Homo sapiens: one gene and its partners. The protein of the gene in region 2 purifies or fractionates together with the protein of the main gene of each other region. This does not show direct contact. Each region holds a gene or a part of one and is shown on either strand. Other genes may lie near its edges. The genes, in order: SCFD1, SLC35A1, CILK1, TMEM106B, GOSR1, ACBD3 and STX2.

Region 1 (3,500 bases), on a different chromosome or scaffold from region 2:
TGTTAATAGACTGTTATAGTTTGTCAATTCCAAATGTCCTTTTTTACATTTCTGAAATTAGGATCTATCTTATCACTGATGATATGTCATAACTGGCAGCATTTTTATTTCTCAGTAGTATATAAAATATATTTTAAAAATTATGTTTTAAAATTGTTACCACCTTGGGTTTCATGAAATACGGTATTTGATGAGTTTTCCTTTCATTTTTATGTCAGACTGAAATAAGCAGGTTTGCTTTGATAATGTGTTAATTTTTATGGACTGAAGTAAAGTTTAACTTCATGCTATCCTTGGAAATTGTGGTTTATTAATAAACATTGAGTGCCATTGTCTCTGTACTAAGTGTTTAACTCCTTTATTTACTAATGGAAGGACTGAAGTTTAGAAGGCTTAAGTGATTGTCTCACATTTGTACAACCAGTTAATAACAGAGCCATGGCCACATTGCTTGACCACTAATTCTGTGCTGTTTATCTACTGAACTGTAATGGCTCAGTAACAGTAACTAACAGAAGTGAGGCCTTACTCAGTACTTCATTCAGGGGTAATAGGATAGTCTACCAGTTTGAGAGTCTCGTAATCTCTGCCTAACTTGCTACTTGCCACCAGAGCATGGAAATATTACACAGCTACCATGGTGAACTCTTGTGTACTTTGCCTCCAACCATTCTCCTCTATTTGCTGGAGAATACTGTATCAGTTACTTTATACCCTGCAAGCTGGTTTAGGCTAATTTGTAGGAAACAGTAATTACAAGTTTCCACAGTATGAAATGGTGGTTGTAGCCCATTAGACAGTTGGACAAGCAGTGTGAAAAAGACCACAACCTATGGCAGCCATCACATTATCATTCTTGATATCAGTGGCAACAGTTATTAAACACAGACTCACTGGCAGCATGTGCCTCTTTCCTCTCTCTCCTTGATTATAGAAGGATGACTAGAGAGAGGTGAATATTCCTCATATAAGCATGGTTTGATGTTGGGATATTTGTATGGAAATTGTTCCTAAATTGTAAAAGGAGAAAACTGTAAAATGACTTAATCTATAAGATGCTTACATTCTCTTATGAAACAATAAATAGACAAAAATAGATTGTCTTTAATTTTTAAGGAAACATTTATATACCTTTCATTTAAAAAATATATTTGATTTCATGTTTGGTTAAATTTTTTTATAGCTTCTAAAGAATTGCTTCTAAAATTTTTTTCATTGCGTCCCCTAGCTTTCTGATTTTCCCCTCAGAGAGCCACACTTTCCTCACATTCACCCTTCCCCTCTGACCACCACATTTCTATGAAAAGTGGGAATAAGATTGATTCTGAATATGTTTTAGTTCTCATTCAAGGAGAGTGTTGGTAGAAAAGAATGTCTGACCATAAGCAGTGCTAAAAGTGTGAGCAGAATAGAACAAATGAAGACTAACAAGAAATTAGGGTCTTACTAATGCTAATAAATAATAACAACACTGACATGGGAGAAAGATAGGTTAACTCACTGATTAATTGCAACAAGAGCTTTTAGAGCACTGGTTACTGTCCTTGAGCTAGTGAACTCCCATTTTGAGGAATATTGTTTTAAATAAGTGAATAAAAAAATAAGTTTTAGTTCCTTATGTCTTCTAGGCTTTTACACTCTGATCGAGATCCTATTCCAGATGTTCCTGCAGTATACTTTGTAATGCCAACTGAAGAAAATATTGACAGAATGTGCCAGGTAATATGGGTTCTTATTTTCTGGACTCCTGAATTTGGAAATGGATTTTTTTTTCAAGAAAAATTCCTAGATGTCCAGGGTGAAAAATCAGAAATTCCTATGCCTACTTTCTCACTCTGATTTTTGAGACTATCTTTGAATTCCAAATAGCCTGAAAGACTTAAAACTTTTGGCTGAAGAAGTATTATACAGTAGTCCTCTCATGTCCACAGTTTCACTTTCCACAGTTTCAGTTATCCACAGTTAACCAGGTACTGAATATATTACAGTATTTTGAGAGACCACATTCATATAACTTTCATTACAGAATATATTTTCTGTAATATATTTCATTACAGAATATATTTTATAATTGCTCTATTTTATTTCTAGCTATTGTTGCTAATCATTTACCGTGCCCAATTTATAAATTATAAATTAAGTTTTATCATAAATATGTATGTATAGGAAAAAACATATACGGTTCAGTACTACCTGGTTTCAGGCATCCACTGGAGTCTTGGAAAATAACCCCTGCAAATAAGGGCAACCACTGTACTGGTAAAGTCTGAGTCTGGCTTTAACAAACAGAAAGCCTAGGTATATTGCCTTTCTAACTTATATAGGGTTTTCCTTTTCTAAAATAAGGGTGAGATTAGGAAGTCCACACTGGTGCAGAAGTACTATAAGGTAATCAAAGACCCAGGCTCCTTCTGTCGCTGATCATTCGTCTTTAGTTTGTTGGTTTTCCTTGTCTTGCTTGTCGCTGCGCCTGTAGGCATCAAATCTATGTTCACATCAACAAGAAGAGGGACATGGACTGTGCCAGCCCTGACTGTTGATTTTGATCAGGAATTTAAGCCTTTCCAGAAACTCCCAGAAGACCTTTATTTATTTCTCACTAGGTAGAATCAGTTACAAGGGTGGCTGCAAAAGTCAATATTTAGATGAGTCACCCCAAAGAAAATCTAGCAAGATTCTTTTAGCAAGGAAAAGGAGAAAAGTAGATATTGGATAGGTAAGTAACAGTGTCTTCCACAAGTCACAACATCTTTGTTATTGACTGTTGAATCAAATTGCTATTTAAATTGTTAGTGACGTTTGCAAATTTTGTGTCCTGTGTAGCTTTATGATGCCCAGCTTTCTCTTTTACCCTGCGTAAACTCAAGTATGCTATTCATGAAAGAGGTACCACTTGCAATCTCTTCTTCTTTCATTATTTAAATAACACCTTTATTGAAATTATAATTTACATACCATACAATTCACACATTTAAGGAGCACAAGTGTATGGTTCATTGGTTTTTAATATAGTCACAGAGTTTTGCAACCATCACCACAGTCAATTTTAGAACATTGTCATTACCTCAAAAAGAAACCTGGTACCATTTATCACATCCTCAACCCTCCCCCATCCTCTTCCATCCCTAAGCTACCTTCTGTTTCTGTATATTTGCCTACTCTGACCATTACATATGAATGAAATCCTATAATATGTGGTCTTTTGTATATGGCTGATTTCTCTTAGCATAATGTTTCCAAGGTTCATCCATATTGTAGCATGAATTGGTACCTTATTCCTTTTCGTGGCTGAATATATTCCATTGTATGGATGTACGAAATTTTATTCATCCTTTTACCACTTGATGGACATTTGGATTGTTTCTACCTTTTGGCTATTAATAATGTTGCCATAAATATTCATGTGCAGGTTTCTCTGTGGACATGTTTTCAATTCTCTTGTGGCCGTAAACACATAGGAATAAAATTGCATGGTCAAATGATAACTCTATGTTTACCTT
Region 2 (3,500 bases):
GCCATCCTGTAAAGGGGTCATTTACCCCTGAGCTGCTGGCTAACTCATTGGACAGAGCAGTCAGACCTTGCAATGCCTTTGTTATACTTCCATTAGGGGCAGTGTTGTTTGGGATGAAGGCACAACATTCAGTTTTAATCATGATGCAAACTCCTCCTCTTTCTGCTAATATCATGTCTAAGGCTATCCTATTTTCCCAAGCCATCTGGCAGTTAGTCCCTAATTGCTCAGCTATTCCTTTAACAGCATCTCTAGTGTAGTTCATAAATTGCTGTTGGTTATAATAGATGTAGTTTATCCAATCTATGTTTTTATTAATTGTGACCCACCAAAATATTGACTCAAATCCTGCAGCTATTTGATTTCGGGCTTTAAATTGATCTGGTATTCCCCGTGGGACTCCAATTGCATCTAAATAGACATGAGAGTTGAATGACCTATAAGGAGCTTCTCTCACTTTATGATGTCTTATTTTTCCTTCCTCTGGTTGATGAAATGCCAGAGTAAAAGGGATAGCCAATTGAACTAGAGCATAACTACTGCTCTAATTATTTGGCAGAGTGTCCAGTAAAGGTCCTCCATAATACCACCATACATCCGCTCAGGGATGAATAAGGGCAGATTGACGGGTCACCTCTTGGAAGTGCCTAACTTCACTGCATCCTGTTAAGTCTCCAAGAAATGCCAAATTTTTCCCCGTGTCGTTAGAGACACGAGGTAAAATTGGTTTTGGAAGATGGAGGCTGGATGGCCCTTGGGGGCTGACCTGCAGGGTGTTGGACTTCAGGAAATAGCAGAGAAAGAGCTTAGCACAATTTGTTATTCCAGGCAGTAGAATCTTGAAAAAGCTACCATGCACTCCATGTCCACTTGATTTGAGGACCATCCCAGTGGAAAGGTAACAACCTGGGCCTCTAGCCTACCGTGCACACAAGTGTAACAGTTACTTTTGTTTAAAGTGTGAATGGAATATTTAATACATTTTAACCAGGCATTTACATCTTTATACCCTGTCAATAGCTATGGTTTGCCTTAGGTCTCCTATTTCTACTACTGAGACCTTGCTTTTGTCATTTGGCATGAGGCGAGGCATAGTTTTATTTCGTAGGTTTGTGAAAGGGGCAGTTGTAGGAGGTAGAGCAGGGAGAACAAAGCGCATCTTAAAGAAGCCTATAGGGTCCTTTCCAGTGACTTCTGCTCCTAAACCATAGAAACGCTCTAAAGTGGGGTTAGAGTTGCTAGTGGTAGGAACAGTAATGGATATAGGCACTGTGTTAGGAAAGGAAGGAAAAGATAGATAGACTAAGCTTTTCTTAGCTTTAATTTGGTAAGGCTTGATCCAGGAACAATGGTCCATGATTCTGATGGTAATGGTGCTTGCTTGACTCGGGTGTGATGTGTCCATCCCCCTTCTGTGGTACAAACCATAGTCTTGGTGGTTAGCAGCACAAGGTAGGGTCCTTCTCAGGCTGGCTTGAGTTTTCCTTCTTTCTACCCTTTGATGAGGGTGTGATCCCCAGGCTAGTGCCCGTTTACCAGAAATTCTAGGGGTGGTACCTGTGCTAAAAGACTTGTAGTTTTGAGGGAAAGGAAAGTGGAAGATAAACCAAGTATATAATTTATGAGAAACTGATCTTTTGTTTTAAATTTGGGGACACCAGGCTGGGCGCGGTGGCTCATGCCTGTAATCCCAGCACTTTGGGAGGCCGAGGCGGGTGGATCACCTGAGGTCAGGAGTTTCAAGACCAGCCTGGCCAACATGGAGAAACCTTGTCTCTACTAAAAAATACAAAATTAGCCAGGCTTGGTGGCACATGCCTGTAATCCCAGCTACTTGGGAGGCTGAGGCAGGAGAATCGCTTGAACCTGGGAGGCGGAGGTTGTGGTGAGCCGAGATCGCGCCATTGCACTCTAGCCTGGGCAACAAGAGCGAAACTCTGACTCAAAAAAAAAAAAAAAAATTGGGGGACACCAGCAGTGGACTTTATAGTCCTTAGTGCCTTCTTCCTGAGAAACTTCCTTTAGAAACTTCCTGAGAAACCTATTTTTATTAGTTTTTAGACCAAAGAAAGCCAAACACCATTTTATATTTGACAGTGCTTCCTGTATGATTATACCAGATAAGCTAAATTTCACCTTTATATTAGTGTATTATTAATATTAAACTCAATTTTAATAAAACCCTGTAGACATATTTATCCGATTTTAATGTCTGACCATAAGGTAAGATTTCCATAGACTCTTTTTAACCTTTTATAAAATTTGTTAAAGAGCAGTTTAGTGTTTTTTAGTGTTTTAAGAAAAACCCATTGTGCTTTTATTTTAATGTCCAGTTCACAGAAAAACTGGATGATACCCCTTTAACTTTAGCCAATATGGTTACACACAGAATTTCCTTTACAATTAACATTTTAAAACTTGCTTAAACGCTCAAAACAAAATTTTTTTTAACCTTTTAATGTAGGTAAAAATCCACATTCTATGCCTCCTTATTATCCTTTTACCAAAAGTATATTTTACTTTCATTATACACCTTGCACATAAACTGTTTCTTCAATAGTTTTACATTCAGGAGGCCTAATTACTTTTAAATTATACAACATTTCTTGCATAAGTTCCCTTTTATAGCATTTTTCATGACTTTCGCAATCTTCGACAGGCCTCAATTTTCTGACTTCCTGTAAACATCGCTTTCTTTAAATAACCAGTTAATTTATTTTAGGATAATAATTTACCATATAACATTCTTTTTATATAAATTCTCCCCCCCCTCCTTTTTTTTCCCCCAAGATGATAACCATTCTTTTCCAAAGCAAACTTCCTTCAGGTCTGTGGACTAGACTGCCTAAGGCCACAAGATTAGAAGTTAGGATAATACATATTACACTGCTAACTTTTGGCAAACTTTACCTTTGTGGAAAACCTTGTAAGTTTGGTATTTCAATTATCCTTTGCTATTAATAAGACTTTCTTTAGTTTAAATTAACTTAGAATTGGTATAGACCACTCCTTCCTGATTCTGTAAGTACTTTAAGGCTTAGCTGAGTGCAAACAGCTTACCAACTATTAGGCAATTTTCCTAACTCTACTTCTATAAGAGTTTCCCTATCACTTACTGAATACCCGTTGTGGCTTTTTCCCTCAGTCACACGGGAGGAACCATCTATCGTCCTGTCCTGAAGGGAGTTCCTTCTAGGTCTGGTCGGACCTTTATATGGTAATTAATTAAGATTTAGATCCCCTGTGAGGAAACCTGCTGGGTTAAGGGAATTATCAGTGGTTAATGTTAAATCATCTTTTTCTAACAGAATAGCCCCATACTTTAAGATTTTTGAGTTAGTAAGTTACCTTTTTGTCTTAGGATACTTCTGAACTGGGTGAGGTGTGCTCACAATGAGGTTTCCTCTAAAAGTTATTTTTCTACTTTCTTCTGTTAGCAAAGCAGTTGCCGGTACAGATTGAATGCATTTGGGTCATCTGCGGGTTACTGGGTTAAGGAT
Region 3 (3,500 bases), about 34 Mb from region 2:
TAATACTATCCATTTGGAACTTGACCCAGTATTAAGTACTGTTGTCTTTAGAATGATGAACAGAGAGGATTGTCCTATTACTAAAATATTGTTCCTTTCCATGATAATGGCAATTAGTGTATTTTCACATATAACCACATCACAATCACCCTCCCTTTGCTCTAGGGCAGTGACAGTCTTTGGAAAACAACCTTGACTAATAGATTTAGTCCTACTAGAGTTCCTGCCTTCATTCATTCATTCAACTAATACAACTCCCTCTGTCACAAGGACAACCAGCTCTGAGCCCTCATTGTCCCCTGCACTACTGGGTCATTGTTCTCTCTCAGTTCTCAGTGCTGTCTCATGGGTTTCCTCCCTCCCATCCTCCTCACAGCTCTGGTTTGCTCTCTAGTTGACCCTGGTGCTTGGCTCAGGTAGATGTGTTAACATTAAGCTGTTTAATGTTCCCTACAGACGAAAGTCCTTTGTTCAATCAGCAAGAGTATATTATGAGACCACAGTGCTCCTGCCACTGTGCCAGGCATTCATAAGAAATATAAATGTGGCCTCTGCCCTTAAAGTGCTTCTGTCTAATTCATAAAAAATGGTTAGCCAGGTGCGGTGGCTTACACCTGTAATCCCAGCACTTTGGGAGGCTGAGGTGGGTGGATCATGAGGTCAGGGGATCGAGACCACCCTGGCTAATATGGTGAAACCCCGCCTCTACTAAAAATACAAAAAATTAGCAGGGTGTGGTGGCAGGCGCCTGTAGTCCTAGCTACTCAGGAGGCTGAGGCAGGAGAATGGCGTGAACCCAGGAGGCAGAGCTGGCAGTGAGCTGAGATTGTGCCACTGCACTCTAGCCTGGGCAACAGAGCAAGACTCCGTCTCAAAAAAAAAAAAAATGGTTAACATACCTGAAGTTGATAGAGCTCAACTGGAGTTAGAGGGGAGGGCCTATTATGTCCATGAGGGCAAGAGTCATGTCCATTGCATTGTTTCTGAATCCTTAGAACCTAATCTGTTGCCTGGCATGGAGCAGATGCTCAGTGAAAATGTGTTGGTAGAATGAATGAATGAATGAATGAAGGCTACCATGTTAGAATGGCATAATGGAAGAAGCGAAACTCAAAACAGGTGTTGGAGGATGGCAAAAGTTGGGATTGATGTAGACAAAAAGGAGTAAAGGGCACATTATTAATGGAAATAAGTACAGTTACATATCACTTGATGACTGGATATGTTCTGAGAAATGTGTTGTTAGACAATTTTGTTGTTGTGCAAACATCATAGAGTACACTTACTTAGACACACCTAGATGGTATAGCCTATTACATAGCTGGACTATATGGTATAGCCTGTTGTTCCTAGACTGTAAGCCTCTACAGCATGTTACTGTACTGAATACTATAGGCAATTGTAACACAATGGTAAGTATTTGTGTATCTAAACATAGAAAAGGTACAGTAAAAATATAGTATAAAAAATTTTTTTAAAAATGGTACACCTGTATAGGGCACTTACTGTGAATGGAGCTTGCAGGAAATGGCTCTGGGTGAATCAGTGAGTGAGTATGAAGGTCTAGGACACTTTATAAACACTGTACACCAAGGATACACTAAATTTTTAAAATTTCTTTCTTCAATAATTAATCTTAGCTTGCTGAAACTTTTTATTTCATAAACTTATACTTTTTTTAACTTTTTGACTCTTTTATAATAACATTTGGCTTAACACATATGGCTATACAAAAATATTTTCTTTATATCCCTATTCTATAAGCTTTTACTGTTCTTAAATTATTATTATTACTTTTTTAACTTTTTTGCTAAAAACTAAGACACAAATACACACATTAGCCTAGGCCTACACAGGGTTAGGATCATGAGTATCATTGCCTTCCACCTCCACATCTTGTCCCACTGGAAGGTTTTGAGGTGCAATAATACGCAGGGAGCTGTCATCTCCCATGATAACAAAGCCTTCTAGGTACCTCCTGAAGGACCTGCCTCAGGCTGTTTTACAGTTAACTTTTTTTTTTTTTTTAGTAAGTAGAAGGAGTACAATTCTAAAATAATGATTAAAAGTATAGTATAGTGAATACTAGATAAGGATTTTTCAGCTTCATTATAATAAGACCACCATCATATATGCAGTCCATCATTAATTGAAACTTCGTTATGCAGTGCATGACTGTACAGTGAACTTACAAAGAATGAGGAGTTGCACCTGATTGGAGCACACTTTACATGTATTGATAAGTGTTGGAAAATAAGTTTCTCTCTTTAGGTAGAGTGAAAGGAGTTCAGCCCTGTTTAATATAAAAAGGAGTCATGGATGGTTTTTGTGGGTGAATGAGAGAGTGACAAGGGAAAGATAGTGTTTAAGTGGTCAGGATTATAGGAGAGAAGCTGGAGCAAGGAAGGTCTGCAAGAAAGTGGCAATGCAGGCATAGGCAGTGAGAAAGTAGAAAGAGACAGATATGAGATTTACCCCCCCAACCCCCCCGCGCCGCTCCAAAACGAAGTCTTGCTTTGTTGCCTGGGCTGGAGTGCAGTGGTGTGATCTCAGCTCACTGCAACCTCCACCTCGCAGGTTCAAGCAATTCTCCCACCTCAGCCTCCCGAGTAGCTGGAATTACAGGCATGTGCCACCACGCCCGGCTAATTTTTAAAATATTTTTAGTAGAGATGGTGTTTCACCATATTGGCCAGGCTGGTCTCGAACTCCTGACCTTCAAGTGATCCGCCCGCCTCGGCCTCCCAAAGTGTTGGGATTACAGGCGTGAGCCACCGCGCCTAGCTGATATGAGATGTTTTGATAGAAAATACGACACAATCTCATAACTGGGTAAGGATGGATCCAACATAACTGCAAGGTACCTAGAAATCTTATCCAAAGGTTAGGAAGGGGAGATGATTTGGGAGAGGACAAAAGTGGTTTTGGATAAGTTAACATAGGGATGATAGTGACATCCAGTTGCTGTCCAAATAGAGATTTATGTCTTCAGAAGGGTAGAGAAGGCACATTAGAAATGTAGACTTGAGCGTTGTCAACATACAGGTTGTCAAGGAATCGTGTAGATCTTCAGTGATGGCTATTAATTTCTCCCATAATGTGCTAGTTAGAATCCAGCTTTCACAACATTGATACAGATTGAGTATCTCTTACTTGAAATGCTTGGGTCCAGCAGTGTTTCTGAATTTGGATTTTTTCAGATTTTGGAATATTTACATTATATTTTACCAGTTGAACATCCCTAACCCAAAAATCCGAAATCCAAAATGCTGCAGTAAGCAATTTCTTTATGTGTCAGGTTGGTGCTCAAAAAGTTTCAGGTTTTGGAGCATCTCAGATTTTGAATTTTCAGAGTAGGGAATACTCAGCCTGTAATGATAGCAATGATAATGTGTAACAAATAATAGCATCAGCAGCAGCTGAGTTGTATTTCCAGTATTGGTGTCCCATTGAGATTTGGAGCCACATTAAATGATGTCTAGGTTGGTGATACTCTCAGG
Region 4 (3,500 bases), on a different chromosome or scaffold from region 2:
TCACGCCATTCTCCTGCCTCAGCCTCCCGAGTAGCTGGGACTACAGGCGCCCGCCACCGCGCCCGGCTAATTTTTTGTATTTTTAGTAGAGACGGGGTTTCACCTTGTTAGCCAGGATGGTCTCGATCTCTTGACCTCATGATCCACCCGCCTCGGCCTCCCAAAGTGCTGGGATTACAGGCGTGAGCCACCGTGCCCGGCCGGGTATTTTTTTTTAATTTAAGAATTAAGTACCTTACACTTCTCAAAAGAAGACATTTATGCAGCCAACAAACATGAAAAAAAGCTCATCATCACGGGTCATTACAGAAATGCAAATCAAAACCACAGTGAGAAACCATCTCACGCCAGTTAGAATGGCAATCATTAAGTCAGGAAACAACAGATGCTGGAGAGAATGTAGAGAAATAGGAAGCTTTTACACACTGTTGGTGGGAGTGTAAATTGCAACCATTGTGGAAGACAGTGTGGTGATTCCTCAAGGATCTAGAACCAGAAATACCATTTGACCCAGCAATCCCATTACTGGGTGTATACCCAAAAGATTATAAATCATTTTACTGTAAAGACACATACACACATATGTTTATTGCAGCACTGTTCACAATAGTAAAGACTTGGAACCAACCCAAATGTCCATCAATGATAGACTGGATAAAGAAAATGTGGCATATATACACCATGGAATACTATGCAGCCATAAAAAAGGATGAGTTCATGTCCTTTTCAGGGATATGGATGAAGCTGGAAACCATCATTCTCAGCAAACACACACAGGAACAGAAAACCAAACAGCACATGTTGCCACTCATAAGTGGGAGTTGAACAATGAGAACAGATGGACACAGGGAGGGGAACATCACACACTGGGGCCTTTTGTGGGGTAGGGGGCTAGGGGAGGGATAGCATTAGTAGAAATATCTAATGTAGATGACGGGTTGATGGGTGCAGCAAACCAACATGGCACGTGTATACCTATGTAACAAACCTGCACGTTCTGCACATGTATCCTAGAACTTAAAGTATAAAAAATAAAAAAAAAGTTAGGTGTCTGAAATAGATTTGGGATTAAAATTATTTGTATTTCATCTTTTTGGGGCAACTTAAAAAATGCTATTATCAATATATTCCATTCATGAATCTGAAATTCATGAAATGAAAATAAGAAATCAGTGGTTTCCAATATATCATTTTTAAGGATTCCCTTTGAAGACAAAACATTTAAAATGTATGTTAAAATGGAAAATCATTTCTTAAAAATCAGAAATTACATTTGTCTATTGTCATTTTCAGTGCTATTTAGAAAATATAAATTTAAGCTGACATTTGCCTAGTTATAAATTATGTTTCACCCATAAACCAAAGCAGTTTTGTTGAATCACACTCAGTAAGTTATCACTGAAGAAGTGACTGTACACTACCCTCTAGGCCAATGTTCAGGGGTCCCTGGAAAGGTGAGCAGTCAGGGGCTGCAGGTCTTCTGCTCTCAAATCAAAGCATCTGTTTTGTCACATATCAAGGTTCCTCATAAGATGCTATTTACAAATAAGTATTTCACAAGCTTTAAAAAATTCTGAAAAACCACTGATCAAGGAAACAGAAATCTACCAGAAAAAAAAAAAAAGCCTCACAAACTTATTAATGATTCTTCTCCCTTGAGAAACTGGCTAGGAGGAGCACATTCAGGTAATACATCTTTTCATTTTCGTTTTTCCATATTATTCTACAGAGATAATTTTGGGCACATTCCATCTAATTTCAAATCATACTACCTCATACAAGATTTTAAAAATAGTAATTAAAACACAACCTCTAAGCTGACAAAAATTGTTTGAAAAAAGTTGATGAAAACAAAAGTTTAAAACAAGTTTAAAACAAAAAAACTTGGCTCAAACTTTGTGACTGGGCAACTCCTTTAAAAGTAAACATTCAGAAAAAACATTCAGAAAAAGTTCACCAAGTGTTTGAGTAAGTTTAGAGGGAAAGTAGAGAGGGGTTGGACACGAAGTGGGCATTGAAAAAGATAGAATTGGGGGATAAAAAACATGGGCAAATAATTTTTCTAAGAAAAAAGGAACAGAATGAGCGAAGGGATAAAGGAATGAACTGTTCCCAATGAGAAAGAACTCGATTTGGTCAGGACATTGTTGAAGGGCAATAAGAAATGATTGTGAACTGAGATTGTAGCCAGCTAATGAAAGGTTCTCAACACCAGAGTAAGAACTTGGGCTTTTTCAGTAAAAAAGAAGGAAGTGCAGATATACTTCCTTTTATTGTGCATCACCTTATTGCGTTTTGCAGATATTGTGGTTTTGATGAATTGGTTTCTTTCAATCCTGTGTCCAACAAGTCTATGAGTGCCATTTTTTTCAACAGCATGTTCTCATTTCATGTCTCTGTCGCATTTTGGTAATTTTTGCAATATTTCAAATGTTTCCATTATTATTAAACCTATTTTAATGATCTGTAATCAGTGATCTTTGATGTTTTTGTAAGTATTTGGAGGCAGCATGAACCATACCCATGTAAGGCAGTGAAAGTAATAAAAAAAAGTGTGTGTTCGGACTGCTCTCCTAACCAGCTGTTCCCACATCCCTCTCTCCTTGAGACAAAATAACATTGAAATTAGGCCAATTAATAATCCTACAATAGCCTCTAACTGTTCAAGTAAAAGGAAGAGTCACATATCTCTCACTTTCAATCAAAAGCTAGAAATAATTACACCTAGTAATCAAGCATTTCTCACCAAGGACAATCTTGGAAAGTCAAGATAGGCTGAAAGCTAGGTCTCTTGCACAAGTTGTGAAGGCAAAGGAAAAGTTCTTGAAGGAAATTAAAAGTGCTATTTCCTTACTGTAAGTAATTGAAAAGTGTTCCAGAAAACATGAATGATAAGAAAATCAAACAGCCTTATTGCCGATATGGGAATGTTTTAGTGGTTTCAATAGATCAAACCAGCCACAACATTGCCTTAAGTGAAAGCCTAATCCTGAACAAAGCCCTAACACGCTTCAATTCTATGAAGGCTGAGAGAGATGAGGAAGCTATTGAAGAAAAGTTGGAAGCTACCAAGAGGTTGGTTAATGATGTTTAAGGAGATAAGTTGTTTCCATAATATAAAAGTGCAAGGTGAAGCAGTAAGTGCTGATGGAGAACCTGCAGTAAGTTACCCAGAATATCTAGCTAAGATCATTGATGAAAGTGGTTACAATGAACAATATATTTTCAATGTAGATAAAACAACCTTCTTTTACAAAAAGGTGCCATCTAAAACTTTCATAGCTAAAGAGAAGTCAATGCTTGCCTTTAAAGCTTTAAAGGACAGGCTGACTCTCTTTAGTGGTGAATGTAGCTGGTGACTTTAAGTTGAAGCCAATGCTCATTTGCCATCCTGAAAATCCTAGGACCCTTAAAACTTTTACCTACTCTGCCTGTGTTCAATAAATGGAACAGTCTGGATAATATGACATCTGTTTACAACACGGTTCACTGAATATTTT
Region 5 (3,500 bases), on a different chromosome or scaffold from region 2:
ATCAAGTCTTATTTAGAAAGTCCTTTCTGCTCCAAAGTTTACAAATTTCACCTCTGCTTTATGGTTTCTTTTTCTATCCTTCTTGGATCCATTTGGAATTTGTTCTGGATGTGAGGATTGAGATAGAATTGTTTTTTTAAAATCTCTGAATAATTAAGCAATGGTTATAGTTCCATTTATTTTATAATTTCTCTTTGCCCCACTGATTTTAAACAACATCTTTATCAGAAACTAAAAATTTCCAAACATAATTGGGTCTACATATAAACTCTGTTTAATTGTTTTTATTTATTTATTTTTTTTCTCTAGTATCAAACTGTCTTAACTATTCCAGCTTTTTAACAGGTTTTAAGATCTGGTAGAACTAGGAACCCTCTACCACTTATCTTCATTTTCAGGTTGTTTTTCTTGGTTGTTCTTGTATGTCTATGATTCCAAATGAACTTTGGTGTCATTATGTCATTTGTTTTTAATTAAACAAACAACGATACAACCCTGCTGTTTCCACTGGGATGTCATGCAATTTAGACGAAAGTCTTCCTATCCAAAAACAGAATGATTCTTTCCTTTACTTAAATCTTGTTCTATGTCCCTCAGTAGAATTCTGCACATACAAGTCCTACACATTTCTTATTTAATTCATATATAAATGCTTTATAGTTTCTTCCATTGTATTTTCTAACAGGTTATCATTTATTTCCTATCATAATAGGAAAACTATTTGCTTTTATGTATTCATTTTGTGATCTACCATCTTACTGAATTTAATTGTTTCTAACTTTTTATCAGGTAATTTTCTTGCGTGTACTAGACATATAATTTTATCCTGCTACCTCACAGAAATTTTGCCTCTTCCTTTCCAATATTTACATCTTTTTTTTTTTTTTTGAAACAGTCACTCTGTTGCCCAGGCTGGAGTGCAGTGGTGCAATCTCGGCTCACTGCAACCTCCACCTCCCAGGTTCAATGTTCAAGCTATTCTCCTGCCTCAGCCTCCCAAGTAGCTGGGATAACAGGCACCCACCACCACGCCCCGCTAATTTTTGTATTTTTAGTAGAGAAGGGGTTTCACCCTGCTGGCCAGGCTGGTCTCCAACTCCTGACCTCAAATGATCCGCCCACCTCAGACCTCCAAAGTGCTTGGATAAGAGGTGTGAGCCACCATGCCCAGCATACATTTCATTTCTTTTTACTGTCTAATTGCACCATCAAGAACTTAAAAAACAACGTTATACATTTGTAGCGATCATGGGTATCCTTGTCTTGTTTCATACAATGGGAATGTTTTTATTGCTTTCTCTTTAAACACAATGCTAGCTTTTAACCCGATAATACATTTTTGTATTAAAGTATCTTTCTATTCCTACTTTTTTTTTTTTTTTTTTTTTAGATGGAGTCTCAGTCTTGTAGCCTAGGCTGGAGTGCAGTGGTGCAATCTCAGCTCACTGCAACCTCCGCCTCCTGGGTTCAAGCTTCTCCTGCCTCAGCCTCACAAGTAGCTGGGATTACAGGCGCCCACCACTATGCCCAGCTTATTTTTATACTTTTAGTAGAGACAGGGTTTCGCCATGTTGGCCAGGCTGGTCTCCAACTCCTGACCTCAGGTGATCCACCTGCCTTGGCCTCCCAAAGTGCTGGGATTACAGGCACGAGCCACTGCGCCCGGCCATCTATTCCTACTTTTAAAAACAGTTTTTAAAATTAGAAATAGTTGCTGACTTTTCTCAATATTAAAAATATTTGTGGCTGGGTACAGCGGCTCATGCCTATAATTCTAGCACTTTGGAAGGCTGAGGGGGTGGATTGCCCATACACAGGAGTTAAGAGAACAGCCTGGGCAACATAGCAAAAACCTGTGAACACAGGAGTTAAGAGACCAGCCTGGGCAATATAGCAAAACCTCGTGAACACAGGAGTTAGAGACCAGCCTGGGAAACATGGCAAGGACCTGTCTCTGCAAAAGCTTTTAAAAAATTAGCCAGGCGTGGTGGCATGTGCTTGTGGTCCCAGATGCTCAGGACGCTGAGGTAGGAGGCTTGTTTGAGCTTGGGAGGTTGAGGCTGCAGTGAGCTGTGACTGTACTACTGCACTCCAGCCTGAGTGACAGAGAAACCCTATCTCAAAAAAAAAAAAAAAATTGCCTTCCTATTTGTACTACCATATTTTTAACATATCCTCCATTTAAATCTTTAAAAGTTTATTTAGTTTTATTGGTGCATACACATTTACTGTTTTCTTAAACAATATACTAAGTATAGTAAATAATTCCCCCTCCATATTATCTTCAAAGCTAGCTGAAAGTACACGCTTACCCACCACGTTATTGTCTATACATGACCATTGGCTATTTCACTGTTACAGCTAGCTAGCTAGGTCTCCCATAGTGGAAGTATATGTACCCAGTGATGAATATTACTCAACTTCGCCAAGAAATAGCAAGAGCTATTAGATATTTTCAGAATTTTATAATGGTGACCCCAAAAAAAAGTAAAACAAGTCCCTTTAGCATGGCATTTATTTTCTCAGATTTTTCTCTTTGTCCTTTTAAATATATGTGCACATATCCAATGCAGGGATTAAAAAAAAAAAAACCCAAACTCCTGTGATAATGAAAACATCTCGAGCCCAATATATTACCTGCAATATGTCTCTATGCCGCTGTAATGTATGCATCAGGGCTGCATTCAAGGAGGGGACACCTGCACTGTTGGTATATTCTGCCATTTTATCATTTACCCCTGTAAGCTAGAAATAAAGAAAAAAAAAACAATCAAAATATTTTACTAAGCACTATAAACAGCTAAAAGCAAATTATTTGCCTATATGCCCTTTTGGTTGACAGCAAAACAAAACAAAACAAAACAAAACAAAAAACAAACAAGAGAGCAAGTAAGAATTCAGCATTCCCCCACATAATCCATAAAGACCAAAATAACATCATATCACCTGAGAATGGCTGTCATCAAAATTCAAGTGGTGTGGGGAGGTACACATATTGAATGGAATGGATAATTTCAATAAACATGTCTGTCTCAATATAATCCAGGATCCTACGTAACAAGTATACAGTTATTTGCAAAATAGCCATTTAACAGAAAGCACTTACCCTTGCCAAAAGTTGTTCAATCTCAATCGCCATTGTCTCAAACATTCTGTCTTGGCTTGATCCATTTAAAAGGGGTGTTGTATCAGAACTAAAAAGAAGTTCAGTTAAAGAGGATCCATTACTCAAATCAGTCCTTTAAAACATACTTAAAATAATAAGGTGATTAATAGGAGCCATAAAATGAATTATGGATTATGTTATATAGGGTCTGTGAGAAACGATCTTTTACATTTTTACCCCAAAGGAATTATGGTTCCTTCAACCTCAACATTACATTCTCTCTTCTTTCCTTGACTCTTACCAAGAGGAAATAAGATTGAGGTTTAAATGATCCACAGATTGGATAACTAGCTAACGAATACTCAGGAACTGGCTTTAAATCCAATATATACAG
Region 6 (2,281 bases), on a different chromosome or scaffold from region 2:
TTTTGATTCCCAGCAAGAGTTCACAAACCATCAGACCAATATCAATAAGGTAAACTGTGACTCTAATGCTCCACAAAAGTAAAAAGAAATTTCCAAATTAAATGTCATCTTCTGCCCAACCCTAGACTCCAGACTTTGTAACAACATTTTTATCTAGTATAATAGACTCTGTAGTAGACTGATTTTGACCGCCACAAAGAGTAGGAGTTGTCAAACTTGAGGAGATAGACTCCTCTCCCTGGATATTGATGGCTGCCAGCATACACCTCCTCATGACAGTCCCGTCGGTACACAGGCACAATCTCATCCAGCAAAGGCTTGTTGGCATTCTTTTTGGCTTTCTCTTCACAACCGATGTTTTCTGTAAGAACAGAGACAAGTCAATGAACAGATTCAGGAAAACCACACTTGCATCAGGCAATTAAAATCTATCCTTTCTTTTTTTTCTGGAGACAGAGTCTTGCTCTGTCACCCAGGATGGAGTGCAGCGGCGTGATCTCAGCTCATTGCAACCTCCACCTCCTGGGTGCAAGCGATTCTCCTGCCTCAGCTTCCCAAGTAGCTGGGATTACAGGCGTGCACCACTACATCCAGGTAATTTTTGTATTTTTAGTAGACATGGACTTTCACCATGTTGGCCAGGATTGTCTCAATCTCCTGACCTTGTGACCCACCTGCCTCGGCCTCCCAAAGTGCTGGGATTACAGGCGTGAGCCACCGTGCCCAGCCTATCCTTTCTTTGAGAAACTGCTCTTGTTGGGAATTCTGTTGAACCATTTAACAAGTTATGTGCATGTGAGCATTTATTAGTTCGTTCATTCATTCATTCATTCACTCATTCATTCAAATACCTAAGTATGTGCTATACACCAAACCCTGTTCTGAGCCCTGGGAGCCCAGTGATGAACATCTAGTGGTAGCAGTGGTCAGCATCCTATCTCTTTCTGTGCTTACTACCATTCCTATTTCAAGGTCCCATTTTCCCCTTTCCATAGCCATTCAATTCCTAATTCATCCTCAGGAATTTCACTCATCTGAGTAACATGAAAATGTTGCTCTCATCATCCTCCTTCTGACCAATATGAGTCCTCCCCATTTTAGAAAGATGGAAGATGATTTGTGAGGACTATTGCTTTCTGTATATCTTAAATATAAGCAGTAAAATGAAAAAATCATAGTAGAGAGATAGGCATTCAGAGATACTCTGAAAATTCAATTATTTTCACTAGGCCAATTTAACCCAGAGATGATCTAAGTGGCAAAAAATGGGCTCTGAAAGGTTTGCCCCGGTTAAGAGTTTTTTGAACTGTAATGCTATGAGGTTAGGAAAAAAAATGCCTCTAGAAACCTACAGGAATGAGAAAATTATGAACCAGCTTCGAAGTCACAGTTTAACATATTTAATACAAACCAGCTCAAAGAGGTCAAGGGAGTATTCAGCACAGAAGACAAGACTTTCGGGTTTATGGTTGTTGTTTTTGTTTGTTTGTTTGTTTAAGAGACTGGGACTACAGGCATGGATTTTCAGGTTTATAACATGGCAGAGTGAATTCTGGCAACACACTGAGTGATGCTTGTCAATGGCCACTATCAGGAATTTAAAACAAGGTAAGTTTGAGAAATTCTCACCGTCTATAGCAGATTAAGGAGATATGATGACTGACTATAATGTGGCATCCTGGAAAGGATCTTGGAACATTAGGTAAAAACTAAAAACATCTGAATAAATATGGACTTTAGTTAATTAATGAATCAATGTATCAATATTGTTTCATTAGCTGTGATGAGTGCACCACAGTACAATGTAAGATGCTAACAACAGAGGGAACTTGGTGCAGGGTATATGGGTACTCTTTGTGCTATCTTTGTAACTTTTCTGTAAATCTAAAACTATTCTAAAATTAAAAGTTTATTTTAAAAAAGCAGATGGCACTCTTATAAAGGTAGGTCAAAACCAGATTTACTTAACCACAGAAATACCTATAATTAAGCATGTTTCACATGCAAATGAGAAATACAGAACCATCCAAAATGTACACTATTGTTGACATCCAAGAAATAGACTGGTCCATTGATTCAAGACTCAAATTTTGTTTTAAATCTATAAAACTAAAGATTACTGGGATAGATGAAAAGGCATCTTTTATGAATTTAAGCCAAGGTTTAGGACCTGTAAACAATGAAGAAAATGGAGAATTAAAACAGGAGGATGTGTTACCATCCATGCTTCTTCAGAGAAAGCAAACTCCTCTGTCTACCTTTCAAGACCTAAGGAAGAAAA
Region 7 (3,500 bases), on a different chromosome or scaffold from region 2:
CTAAGAAGAAAAAAATAGAACATCTTGCCTAATAAACATCCTACACAAACATCCTGCCTAATAAAAATAGACGGTAAGAGAGTTCTGACTGCCAAATAATGGAATGTTAACACACGCAGCATCCCAGAGCTCCTTACAGAGTAATTTCAGGTGTAATTTTGTGGCTTTTGCATAAATGTCAGAAGACTAACTGGAAAACTTCTCATCTGGTAACTGCATGGTGAGCGTAACAGATGCTCACATTAAGATATCAATCTCTTGTTTTGAGATGGTCTCGCTCTGTCACCCAGGCTGGAGTGCCGTGGTGCGATCTAGACTCACTCTAGCCTCGACCTCCCCAGGCTCAGGTGATCCTCCTGCCTCGGCCTCTGGCGTAGCTGGGACTATAGGCACGTGTGCCACCATGCCCAATTAGTTTTTGGATTTTTTTTTTTCTGTAGAGACAGGGTGTTGCCATGTTGAAGGAATAAATCTTAAAGATTACAAAGCAATAGTGAGACTTAACCATGCTCGTGATTCCTTTCTGCTGTATGTTAACTTTTTAAAAAGCCTTGGGTGACTATCAAGTCTGCAGTCACTTCCATAACCCAAGAATAAATTCATTGGGGATGACTTGCCACACTCTAGACACCTGGGAACAGTTCACAACTGTCTAATACAAGAATTGTGCCAAACATTTACAGAGAAATCACTGCTGTGTCCACCTGTAACACACCGACAGCATTGCCACTTCAGGGCCAGTGCAAGGATGGCTCCCAATGCAGAAGAAAACCAGGGGGAAACCACAAAGCCTGCTGAAGTTTAGGAAAGGTGACACTCACACCTTGATTCTTTAAATAAACTGATACCTTTTATATTCAGAATTCTTTAAGAATTAACAGGCATGCTAACTAAATATAATACGTAATTTTCCTTTTAATATTAAAGGAAATATTTTTAAATAAAATAGATGCTGCCTATAGAAAGGTCGAAGGATGTTCCTTTCAGTCAATGTTTTTCTCAGCGTTCATCCATGCCCTCGATTCCATAGTAAAATGATGCGTTAGTGTATTTTATAAAGTACCTTTCAGTGTTGCAATTACTCTAAAAGCTAAAACTCAGGAGACAAAACATTACAACTGAGAATTAATCTTCACTGAATTTCTATGACATTTAATGAAGGATCCACTACATGTAAAGAGCTAATGGTCTTAGATCAAAAACAAAAGATTCAGGCTGAGTACAGTGGCTCATGTCTATGTATAATCCCAGCACTTTGGGAGGCTGAGGGCCAGGAATTCGAGACCAGCCTGGGCAATACAGAGAGTTCTCGTCTCTACTAAAAATAATTTTTTTAAAAATTAGCCGAGTGTGCTGGTGCACGTCTGTAGTCCCAGCTACTCGGGAGGCTGAGGTAGGAGGACAGTTTTAGCCCAGGAGGTCGAGGCTGCAGTGAGCCATGATCACGCCACTGCATTCCAGCCTGGGTGACACAGCTAGACCCTGTCTCAAAAACACTTTTAAAAACGGGATAAGAAGGTGACCTTGGTTTAAAAATGAGTTACCGCCCAGCCTGTGCTTGTTCTCAGTAAACACAGTGGCTGGGCACTCGAATCAGCACACAGGCAGATGTATCACTAGATGGCATTATCTGTACTGCGTGGCTGGCAAGCTTTTATTAGTTTTATGTCTATTACAATTAAGCAAATACTATTATTGGTTAATTGCAAAAGTTAATAAGTAAATTAGTTGATGAGTTACTTACTCCCACCCTGGCAGAGAGGCATGCACACTGACGTTATCCACACCATCATTTGCCAACTGACAAGCCAATAATTAGAGCGATTATGGCAACCAGAACCACTGACACAGCAATAATTATCCACTTTTTCTGTCAAAGAAAAGCAAGCTGATTATATCATGCATGGTTAATTTCATATTGCCACATTAAAAGACATCCTTCATTTAAAATAAAACGACCTGGCCAGGTGTGGTGGCTCACGCCTGTAATCTCAGCACTTTGGGAGTCCGAGGCGGATGGATCACCTGAGGTCAGGAGTTTGAGACCAGCCTGGCCAACATGGCGAAACCCTGTCTCTACTAAAAATACAAAAACCAGCCGGGCGTGGGTCTGCAATCCCAGCTACTCAGGAGGCTGTGGCAGGAGAATCACTTGAACCCAGGAGGCAGAGGTTGCAGAGAGCCAGGATCGTGTCACTGCACTCCAGCCTGGGCAACAGAGCAAGACTCCATCTCAAAAAAATAAAATAAAATAAAGCAAAACAACCCATCAGAACTCACTTTAGAAGCTAAGTTACAGGACACTGCTTAATACTGTTGGGCGACTTCTTGAGAGAGTGACTTAATAAGGTCAGACTACTTGGCGATAAGCTGCTATGTAACTGTTATTTCAGGTTTCATCCATGGGGACAGCACGACCAAGTCATTTTGCCACATTTCTGATGACTGAGACATGCAGTTAGTTTTCCGCATGTACAGAGGTGCGGGCCTGCTAGCTCAGTGACGGAGAGCCCCACTGCCTCGTCATGAAGCCCCGACACACTCAGTACTTGGCCTTTCGCTCCTTCTTTTATGTTCTTGGCAGTTACTTCTTCACTGCTCCTGACATAGCACACAGAAAAAAAAAACCCTTCTACAAACGTTGCCTGGCCTCCCTCTGAGGGCCACATGGCTCCGCGGGAATAAATGCAGGACACTAGGAGTGGGGACGACCCACACCTGAGCCAGGGGCAGCAGCAAAGCATTTGAGCGGCAAGGGGACAGGGAGACAAGCCAGGAGGGTTCCATTAGCAGGCATCTCATCAAAAAGACAGTGTCATTTCTGAAACAGGCATCACGTCTCTGACGAGTTTATACGCCAGCTACCGCACAGACCCCAAGCACCTCACAGAGCCAGGCTTGCTCATCCACAGAGGAGAATGAAAACGTATCACACCCACCACCTTCCCCCTTTGTAAAACCAACGAACTTTCACTATCGTTTTCACCAGACTGACGTGTTCAGGTCATGGAGAAAAGGAACAGGACTGCCTGTTTTTAATGAAAGCTGACTTAGGCCTGGAACTAAGTTAAGCACTTTATACAGGTATCTCTTCACCTCAGTTTACATTAGGGGCCAATTTTTTCAAAGCAATAAATGAAATAACATGAGAAACCATGTCTGGCATTTCAGAGATGACGAGCATACTTAGACATACCCAGGAAAAGCGGAGGGTGTGCCCTGGCGGCTGAGCCTGCAGCCCGGGGGTGTGAGTGAGGGTGTGCCCTGGCGGCTGAGCCTGCAGCCCGGGGGTGCGTCTCAGGGCCATCGCCTGGAGGTGCATCCACACACACCGTCTCACTCCATTTTTTCCTAACACGGTGAAAATCAGCATCTCTGTGTATTAGCACAAGGAGGTGACAATGTGAAAAACCCATAATCTCTCCAGTGTCAGGGGCACTATCATAAAATGCCTAAGTTAGGAGAGTAAGTTTTAAATTTTTGCCCCGTAACAAAAAAAT

The links.
Region 1: the proteins of SLC35A1 (region 2) and SCFD1 purify together in Homo sapiens (affinity purification with mass spectrometry; one large-scale study listed by BioGRID and IntAct). This does not show direct contact.
Region 3: the proteins of SLC35A1 (region 2) and CILK1 purify together in Homo sapiens (affinity purification with mass spectrometry; 2 studies listed by BioGRID and IntAct, with this or other methods). This does not show direct contact.
Region 4: the proteins of SLC35A1 (region 2) and TMEM106B purify together in Homo sapiens (affinity purification with mass spectrometry; one large-scale study listed by BioGRID and IntAct). This does not show direct contact.
Region 5: the proteins of SLC35A1 (region 2) and GOSR1 purify together in Homo sapiens (affinity purification with mass spectrometry; one large-scale study listed by BioGRID and IntAct). This does not show direct contact.
Region 6: the proteins of SLC35A1 (region 2) and ACBD3 purify together in Homo sapiens (affinity purification with mass spectrometry; 2 studies listed by BioGRID and IntAct, with this or other methods). This does not show direct contact.
Region 7: the proteins of SLC35A1 (region 2) and STX2 purify together in Homo sapiens (affinity purification with mass spectrometry; one large-scale study listed by BioGRID and IntAct). This does not show direct contact.

The regions. Positions count from the first base shown.
Region 1 is NC_000014.9:30,632,319-30,635,818, forward strand, and holds part of SCFD1 (sec1 family domain-containing protein 1), read left to right. Parts: intron 1-1,628; coding exon 1,629-1,719; intron 1,720-3,500. UniProt on the Homo sapiens protein: Plays a role in SNARE-pin assembly and Golgi-to-ER retrograde transport via its interaction with COG4. Involved in vesicular transport between the endoplasmic reticulum and the Golgi.
Region 2 is NC_000006.12:87,479,474-87,482,973, forward strand, and holds part of SLC35A1 (CMP-sialic acid transporter), read left to right. Parts: intron 1-3,500. UniProt on the Homo sapiens protein: Transports CMP-sialic acid from the cytosol into the Golgi apparatus, functioning as an antiporter that exchanges CMP-sialic acid for CMP. Binds both CMP-sialic acid and free CMP, but has higher affinity for free CMP.
Region 3 is NC_000006.12:53,020,325-53,023,824, reverse strand, and holds part of CILK1 (serine/threonine-protein kinase ICK), read left to right. Parts: intron 1-3,500.
Region 4 is NC_000007.14:12,238,794-12,242,293, reverse strand, and holds part of TMEM106B (transmembrane protein 106B), read right to left. Parts: 3' UTR 1-3,500. UniProt on the Homo sapiens protein: In neurons, involved in the transport of late endosomes/lysosomes. May be involved in dendrite morphogenesis and maintenance by regulating lysosomal trafficking.
Region 5 is NC_000017.11:30,483,908-30,487,407, reverse strand, and holds part of GOSR1 (Golgi SNAP receptor complex member 1), read right to left. Parts: intron 3,195-3,500; coding exon 3,107-3,194; intron 2,746-3,106; coding exon 2,638-2,745; intron 1-2,637. UniProt on the Homo sapiens protein: Involved in transport from the ER to the Golgi apparatus as well as in intra-Golgi transport. It belongs to a super-family of proteins called t-SNAREs or soluble NSF (N-ethylmaleimide-sensitive factor) attachment protein receptor.
Region 6 is NC_000001.11:226,146,461-226,148,741, forward strand, and holds part of ACBD3 (Golgi resident protein GCP60), read right to left. Parts: intron 1,609-2,281; exon of another isoform or gene 1,543-1,608; intron 362-1,542; coding exon 150-361; 3' UTR 1-149. UniProt on the Homo sapiens protein: Involved in the maintenance of Golgi structure by interacting with giantin, affecting protein transport between the endoplasmic reticulum and Golgi. Involved in hormone-induced steroid biosynthesis in testicular Leydig cells.
Region 7 is NC_000012.12:130,794,251-130,797,750, forward strand, and holds part of STX2 (syntaxin-2), read right to left. Parts: intron 1,871-3,500; coding exon 1,790-1,870; 3' UTR 1,745-1,789; intron 1-1,744.